Linked DNA regions of Homo sapiens: region 1 is linked to region 2. Evidence: fine-mapped expression QTL. A gene starts in region 2. The other region holds a variant in brackets. All regions are shown on one strand. Distances are between the middles of the regions. Region 1 has its middle 16 kb from the start of MED18. Region 2 holds the start of SESN2 (sestrin 2).

Evidence for each region.
Region 1: its variant is fine-mapped to the expression of SESN2 in whole blood (INTERVAL, PIP above 0.99).

Annotation. Positions count from the first base shown.
Region 1 is chr1:28,310,842-28,315,224 of GRCh38, reverse strand. No RefSeq gene overlaps it. Among named protein-coding and RNA genes, the nearest start is that of MED18, 16 kb to the left of the region's middle. RefSeq lists an enhancer at 1,088-1,588. The variant T/C (reference allele first, on the strand shown) is at 1,843.
Region 2 is chr1:28,257,311-28,261,693 of GRCh38, reverse strand. It overlaps SESN2 (sestrin 2), which reads right to left and starts at 2,176. Exons shown (of 10, transcript NM_031459.5): 1 at 1,757-2,176. The coding sequence starts at 1,846. RefSeq lists silencers at 1,266-1,325, 2,106-2,315 and enhancers at 1,585-2,433, 2,426-2,605.

The DNA of each region.
Region 1 (4,383 bases), 54 kb before region 2:
TCCCAGCACTTTGGGAGGCCGAGGCGGGCGGATCACGAGGTCAGGAGATCGAGACCACGGAGAAACCCCGACTCTACTAAAAATACAAAAAAATTAGCCGGGCGCGGTGGCCGGCGCCTGCAGTCCCAGCTGCTCGGGAGGCTGAGGCAGGAAAATGGCGTGAACCTGGGAGGTGGAGCTCGCAGTGAGCCGAGATGGCGCTACTGCACTCCAGCCTGGGCGACAGAGCCAGACTCCATCTCAAAAAAAAAAAAAAAAAAAAAAAAGAGCTGCAGCTTGCTAGGAAATCTCCTGCTGTCTGCTCTTCCCCCAGAGGAAGTTCAAGAGTGGGCTGTACGGGAAGCAAAGACCACACTCTAGGCGTGACTGAGGGAAAGGCCTTCTGCGTAAAATCTTAGGACCATAGACTTAAAGGCGAAAGAGGCCTCCAGCCTCATTAGTCCAGCTTCCTATCTCCCACCCCACAGAACGGATGGGGAAACCAAGACCCACAGAGTGACCCACAGAGTGGAAGGGACTTGCCTAAATTACTCAGCAGGGAATTACAGGCCCCGAGCCATAGCCAGACTTTTCTCCTGAACATTTCCTTCTGAACCCACACTCTTTAGTCATACAGACTTAGGGTTGATTCCTGACCCTGCGCTAACCAGCTGTGTGACTTTGGTGAGTGACGTAACATCTCTGATCTTCAGTACCTGCATTTGTAAAATGAAATAATAGCATCTACCTCACTGGTTTGCTATAAAGATTAAATGATACAGGGCATGTAGGATGCACAATAATTTAAATATGTATGTAGTTCCCATCTTACAGATGAGGAACTGGAGCTTGTTGAAACTTCCCTTGGCTCAGGATAATACCTCAGGTTAAAGAGAGAGCCTACAAGAAGAGAAAGAAAACTCGGGTGAGAACTGGATGGGTACAGGTGAGCCAGGCTCCACCTTTCTGTCCAGGAGCTCAAGGTGACATGGGCCACCCAGTGACCTTTCCTGCCTCTGCTGCCTCAATGCACAGACAGGTTGGTTGTGAAACACCCCTGGGCGGTGACTCAGCCTGGAGGCCTGCTCTGCTGGTCAGCGCGGGCAGGCTGGAGCTGTTTGGTTGAGCCTGGAAAGGACAACATGTCTAACAAACACATTGCTTGTCAAAGCTCTGACGGGGGTGCCAAGCACAGACTGTGAACTCTGGTCCTTGAGGCATCACAGATGACTGAAGTGGGGTGCCTAAGTTGCATGCAACATCTCCTGGTTGTTGTTCTGGTCTAACAACCTTCCAGGGCCAATGTCAGGAAGAGGGTAATGTTTTAGAGGCTGGGGAGCTCCTATTTCTCAAGAGGCAGCTTGGCACGGTGGCCAGGACCTGGGCTTTTGGCATCCATATCATGCAGACCTGAGTTCACATCCTGGCTCTGGCTTCTCACTGGCTATAAGACTTTGGGCAAGTGGCTTAATCCTTTCAGATTTAAACTTCCTTATTCTATAAAATGCCCACCTTTTTATTTTTATTTTATTTATTTTTTTGAGACAGGCTCTTGCTCTGTTGCTCAGGTTGGAGTGCAGTGGCGCTATCTTGGCTCACTACAGCCTCAACCTCCCAGGCACAAGCGATCATCCTACCTCAGTCCACCCCCTGAGTAGCTGGGACCACAGGCATGTGCCACCAAGCCTGGCTCATTTTTTAATTGAGATAGGATCTCCCTATGTTGCCCAAGCTGGTCTCAAACTTTTGGACTCAAGTGGTCCTCCTACCTCAGCCTTCTAAAGTGCTGGGATTACAGGTGAGAGCCACTGTGTCCAGCCAAAATTGTCTTTTAGAGATAAAAGATGTAAAATTCATGAAACA[T/C]AGAAACTCTTCATAAACAATTATTAGAATCCTGCGCCCAAATCTGCCCCTTCCTTCACTCCAAATGGAAATTGCCCCTCCTGGCTGGGTGCGGTGGCTCATGCCTATAATCCCAGCATTTTGGGAGTCTGAGGCAGGCGGATCACCTGACATCAAGAGTTCAAGACCAGCCTGGTCAACATAGTGAAACCCTGTCTCTACTAAAAAAATACCAAAACTTAGCCAGGCGTAGTGGCGAGTGCCTGTAATCCCAGCTACTCGGGAGGCTGACAGGAGAATCGCTTGAACCCAGGAGGCGGAGGTTGCAGTGAGCCGAGATCACACCACCGCACTCCAGCCTGGGCAACAAGAGTGAAACTCCGTCTCAAAAAAAAAAAAAAAAAAGAAAAAAGAAAAGAAATAATAAATTGCCCTTCCTGCTCTCTTGCTATTGTAGTGTACTTTCTCATTCACCCAGAGGTAGTAAAAAAACCACCCATTCCAGGCCGGGCGCGATGGCTCATGCCTGTAATCCCAGCACTTTGGGAGGCCGAGGAAGGTGGATCATGAGGTCAGGAGATCGAGACCATCCTGGCTAACACGGTGAAACCCCGTCTCTACTAAAAATACAAAAACATAAGCCGGGTGCGGTGGCTTATGCCTGTAATCCCAGCACTTTGGGAGGCTGAGGCGGGTGGATCACGAGGTCAGGAGATCGAGACCATCCTGGCTAACACGGTGAAACCCTGTCTCTACTAAAAATACAAAAAATTAGCCGGGCGTGGTGGCAGGCGCCTGTAGTCCCAGCTATTTGGGGGGCTGAGGCAGGAGAATGGCATGAACCCGGGAGGCGGAGCTTGCAGTGAGCAGAGATCCTGCCACTGCACTCCAACCTGGGCGACAGAGCAAGATTCCGTCTCAAAAAAACAAAAACAAAAACAAAAAAACATTCCCAATGGTCTTGAGGTCTAATAACAACAACAACAAAAAGCAACCAGCACGCACTTATATATATATATTTATGGATAAGTACAAAAAATAAATCCTGTTTTGCATCCCAGAACTCATTGTTCAGTATGAGTTTGTTTTTTTTTTTTAATTGGCTGGGTATCGAGGCATGTGCCTGTAGTTGCAGCTGCTCAGGAAGGGGAGGCAGAGGCAGGAGGATCGAGCTCTGGAGTTGGAGGCTGTGCTGAGCTTTGATGGCACCACTGTACTCCAGCCTGGGCAACAAAGACAGACCCTGTCTCTTTTTTTGGGATGGAGTTTCAGGCTCTTGTTGCCCAGGCTGGAGTGCAATGGCGGGATCTCGGCTCACCGCAACCTCCGCCTCCCAGGTTGAAGCGATTCTCCCGCCTCAGCCTTCCAAGTAGCTGGGATTACAGGCATGTGCCACCACGCCCAGCTAATTTTGTATTTTTTGTAGAGATGGGATTTCTCCATGTTGGTCAGGCTGGTCTCAAACTCCCAACCTCAGGTGATCTGCCCGCCTCGGCCTCCCAAAGTGCTGGGATTACAGGCGTGAGCCACCATGCCCGGCCGACCCTGTCTCTTAATAAAAAAATGTTGATTCTAGGATTGTAGAATAGATAATTTAAAAGCATAGGATATGAGGGAAAACCTCAGCTATATTAATTTTGTATTTCAATTTCATGCTGACTTGATACATAAGATGGCTTTTTGTTTTAAAGGCTTTTATCTTGAGAACACGATATCTGGAGTTAAAGGTATTGGCATATTCCACACATCTGTACTTATTCTTGAGTGTGATTGCTTAGGAATGAATATGATTTAAACTCATTCATGTTTAGAGAGGGTGTCAAATTGAGAACCAGGAAGATCCACGTACGCTAAAAATGACCCTAAAGTAAGTTGGTTAAAAAATTAGATTCCAAACATTCTTGGTGAATTTTGAAGTCTTCTTCAGTGTACCCATATTATTATTATTATTATTTTTTTTTTTAATTTTTTTTGAGATGGAGTTTTACTCTTGTCACCCAGGCTGGAGCACAATGGTGCAATCTCAGCTCACTGCAACCTCCGCCTCCCAGGTTTAGGCGATTCTTCAGCCTTGCCTGCTGAGTAGCTGGGATTATAGGCATGTGCCACCATGCCCAGCTAATTTTTTTTTCTTTTTTTGAGGCGGAGTCTCGCTCTGTCACCCAGACTGGAGCGCAGTGGCGCAATCTCAGCTGACTGCAACCTCCACCTCCCAGGTTCAAGTGATTCTCCTGCCTTAGCCTCCTGAGTAGCTGGGACTACAGACTCCCAACACCACACCCAGCTAATTTTTGTATTTTTAGTAGAGACGGGGTTTCACCATGTTGGCTAGACTGGTCTTGGACTCCTGACCTCAGGTGATCCGCCTGCCTTGGCCTCCCAAAGTGCTGGGATTACAGGCGTGAGCCACCACGCCCAGCCTAATTTTGTATTTTTAGTAGAGATGGGGTTTCACCATGTTAGCCAGGCTGGTCTCGAACTCCTGACCCCAGATAATCCACCCACCTCAGCCTCCCAAAGTGCTGGGATTACAGGCAGGAGCCACTGTGCCCAGCTACTATA
Region 2 (4,383 bases):
TTTTCTCCCTAGACCAGGCACTGACCCAGAGAGGGGTGTACAGTGTCTGATCTCAGGAACAGGCTCAGGCACCCCCTTGTGAGACACTCTGGAGAAAGCTGTGCGTGCCATGGCCACGTTCTGATAATAGCAAGCAAGTATCACGCAGTTACTATGTTCCAGTCACAGTGCTTCAGCTTTTGCTTGTATTCTGAGTTAATTCTCCCAACAATCCCTTAGAGATACTGTAAAATCCCCATGGGAAGAAACCACAGATCAGAGAAGTGATTACTGGCTAAGCCACACACTGCAAGTTAGCAGGAGGGCTGGGACATGAACCCAGCACTCTTGCTCTCTAGTGTTCAGGTGTTCTCAATAGTAACATTATTTCCATCTTTCCAAAGAAGTCACACAGCTGAGAAGCTGCAGGAGAAGAGCCATTCCTCCACATGGCGCTCCTAAATCACGGCAGAGAAGGGTAAGCAAGCTAACAAAAACCAGGGCACAAACTATACACCGACGGAGGTAGGATCCCCAGAAACCACGTTACTAAGAGAAAAGCAGGGATTTTCCTGGGGTCATAGCACTCCACCAAATCCCAGGTCCAGAATACAACTTCCACCACACTCTAGGCCTGTAAACTAAAGCAACTAGAAGCTCCTAGTGCCGTGCAATCTCCGAAATCATAAGGCCAAAGAACAAGATATTCAGTGGGGTTAATGAAGAAAGCCTCTTTCTGAGCCCATCGTGGGCCTCAATGTTCTTCCTGTAAAATGGGGCTATAGCGTAGCTTGTATTGCTGGTTTAGTCCTGAGGACTTAGGTTAAAGGCGAAAAAAACTCAGAGCCTGGTATCTAGTAGGTGCATAATAAATGATAAGATGTCCATTATCGCTGCTGCTGGTAGTGGTGGGGGAGTGCGAACTGTCAGTCTGGTTAGGTCCAGCCTAATTCCCGGTCTCCCTGCAAAGCCCCTGCGGGCTATGCCGGGATGCGAATGCGGGGGGGTGGAGGGGAGCGGCGCGAAGGGAGGGTGGGGGAGGAATTTCTGGAAAACAAACTTCTGGGCCTTCAGACCACTTACTTAGCAGGGCGCAGCCTAACCCGCGCTTGGCTTCGGAAGCCGCGACCAGGGTTGTCCCCTCTCCCCCCAGCTTTGGCTGCCGCCGCCGCGTACCGGGCGGCCCGCCAAGCCCCCAGAGCCCCTGCGCTCTCCCTCCAAAGCAGGAGTGCGGTGGACATAGGATGAGGTCGACTTTCACTGGCCAGTCCCAGGTGCCTACGCCCCGCGCTGGGGGACAGGAGCCGGGAGGCACCCCAGGAAGGGTCCTCTGCCCGCCGGCCCCCGCGAAGAGGAAGGGACTCCGCGGAAGGGGGCGGGGAGGAGGAGTGGTCTGGCCGCTCCGGCCGGGATTTGCCTGGACTTGAAGACGCTCAGGAGCCCAAAGCTCGGAGAGCCTCCAGAAGGCTTCTCCCTCATTGGCCAGGAGTCCGAGGGAGCCGAGGAAGGATCCGCGGCCCTGGGGTGGGGCGGTGAGGGAGAGGGGGAGAGGGAGGGAGGAGGGGGAGAGGGAGGGGGAGAAGGAGGGAGAGGGGAGACAGAGTGGGGGAGGGGTGCCGAGGGCCGCGGCTGCCAGTTGATGCAACCCGGGTCCCGGGTTACGCGCTCGGCTTTCCCTCCCCGAGCCCAGGACACACCGACTCAGCTCCGGACAGCCTGAGGCTCAGACGCGGTTCGGGGTTCCAGGGAAGAGGGGCGTCGCGCGGCCGCCGCTTACCTCTCCGGGGCCCGAGTCGCCGACGCCGCCCGGGGCGAACCGCAGGTAGTCCTTGAGCTCTGCGCGGCACTCGGAGTCCGCCACGATCATGGTGCGCGCCAGGACCCGGTCGCGGCTCGCCGACGACCCGTGCACCCGAGTGGGTTTCGGAGGGACGCCCGAATGAAGCCGGGACTGGGCGCCGCCGGGGAGCTTCTAGAACCCCGGGGCGTCTCTCGGGGCTCCAGAACGCTCCGGAATCCGAGAACGGCCGCTTTGGTGCTGGACTCTTCCCCCAGTCGGGCTTCGGGAACGGCGAACGGCCTCGGGGGCCTGGGAAGGGCCGCAGCGCAGGGGTTTTCACGGCCTCGGAAGTCCGCAGGGGCCAGGGCTGCTCCCGGACCCAGCGCTCCTCAGCATCCCCGCCGCGGAACTGCCAGCGCTCGCCGGGCTCTGACACCAGCAGTTCAGCCCGCTGCGGTCCCCGGGGGAGGGCGGGGACACAAAAGCCCGGCGGTCCAGCCAATCAGAGGTCTGTTTCCCCGGGGAGGCGGGGGAAACTCCGCCCCCTGGAGTCACGGGCTCCGCCAATCAGCACCGGGGAGCGCCCGGAATTCTGGGAGTTGTAGTCCGCCTCGGGTGAATGCTGCAAACTTTTGCAAGACGGTTTAGTCAGATCCCTGGCAACACCAGACGGCAGTGACAGCCCTAAGAGTCATTAGGGTTGCGTGATGAAAAGGGACTTCACTGGGCTAGGCCAAACAGCCGAGTGTGAAATCTCCTAAATGAATTCTTCATCTTTTCAGTTCCTGGAGGGACTGGCTAGGGTTAAGAGAGGTTTGGCTCGCGTCCTATCCGGTGCTGCTAATTATAGAACTGAACCCCAGATATTTAGAGGTCAGAGGGCACAACCCTGCTCCCCCTGGCCTCGGGGAAGCTCCAAAGATGCGAGACACAGGGAATTCACCTTATTTGTGGAGCCTCAGGAAAAGCCTTCATTCCTTGAAATGTCATTGGTAACTTCGTGTGGAACCTCAATCCCTATTGCTGGAAGTTTTCTTCCTTCTGCTACCCGTCCTGGCTTCCACCCCTCCCACCCTCCTCGAAACTTTGTAACAAGGTGTTCTGCTGGATCTTTGCTCACCTCTCCCTCTGGCCTTCTCTGACTCCTCTTTCACCACCCACTTCCTAAAACGTGGGTGCTTCCCCAGTTTGTTTTTGCCCCTCTTCCCTCCAGACACTCTCCCTGATCTCATTCACTTCCTGGCCTTCAACTCGCCTCTTGCCAGAAAGTTGCCTCTACCAACACCTCAGCACCTCCAAGCTAAATTCATTTTCTATTCATTTCAAACGGAGCCTCTTCCTTCACAGTTTTCCTTCAGAGCTCCTTTTTTTGTTTCCATTTTAAAGTTATTGTTTATTCTAGACAGGGAATCCTGCCAGGGGTGAGGGTGGATAAGACCCCCAAGTCCCCCTCTGAGACTTCTAAGTCTAAGCTTACAATTCCAAAGATGAAACCGACTTGGTTTCCTGCCTCCAGATTCTTGGGAAAAAGAGATTAATCTCACCCTCCCCTGAGCTCCCAAGGCACTTGAGCTGGATCTCTTTTCACATGTATCACATTCTACCTAGTTTTTTTTGTTTTTTGTTTTTTTGTTTTCTGTTTTTTTGTTTTTGTTTTTTGTTTTTTAGTAAATAGAGACAGGGTCTCAATATGTTGCCCAGGCTGGTCTCAAACTCCTGAGCTCAAGCGATTCTCTCACCTCAGCCTCCCAAAGTGCTAGGATTATAGGCATGAGCCACCATGTCCAGCCACATTCTGCCTTGTATTGTAATTTTCTATGTACATGTTTTATCTGACCCTTTTTTCTTTTTATTAGTATTGTTTTTTAGAGATGGGGTCTAGCTCTGTCACCCAGACTGGAGTACAGTGGCATGATCATAGCACGCTGCAGCTTCAAATTCCTGGGCTCAAGCGATATTCCCTCCTCAGCCCCCCAAATCAATCACTGGGGTTACAGGTGTGCACCACTGAGTCTGGCTTATCTGATCTTTTTAATTGTAAACTCCTTGAGGGCAGGGTCAACATCTTTTTTTTTTTTTTTTTTTTTTTTTTAAACAGAGTCGCACTCTGTCTCCCAGGCTGGAGTGCAGTGGCCCGATCTTGGCTCACTGCAACCTCTGCCTCCCAGGTTCAAGCAATTCTCCTGCCTCAGCCTCCTGAGTAGCTGGGATTACAGGCAAGTGCCACCACACCCGGCTAATTTTTGTATTTTTAGTGGAGACAGGGTTTCACCATGTTGATCAGGCTGGTCTCGAACTCCTGACCTTGTGCTCTGCCCGCCTCAGCCTCCCAAAGTGCTGGCATTATAGGCATGAGCCACCGCGCCTGGCTGGCAGGGTCTACATCTTGACATCCATCTCCTGCTCTATGTCACCTAGCAAAATGTCCTGACAATCATATGCCCTTGGTCACGGAATCTTCCTTTGCATCAACTTCCTCTCTAAACTACCCTGTGTCAGCTTCAGCTTTCATTTAAAAAATTTACTATGTGGCCAGGCGTGGTGGCTCACGCCTGTAATCCCAGCACTTTGGGAGGCCGAGGTGGGCGGATCACGAGGTCAGATCAAGACCATCCTGGCTAACA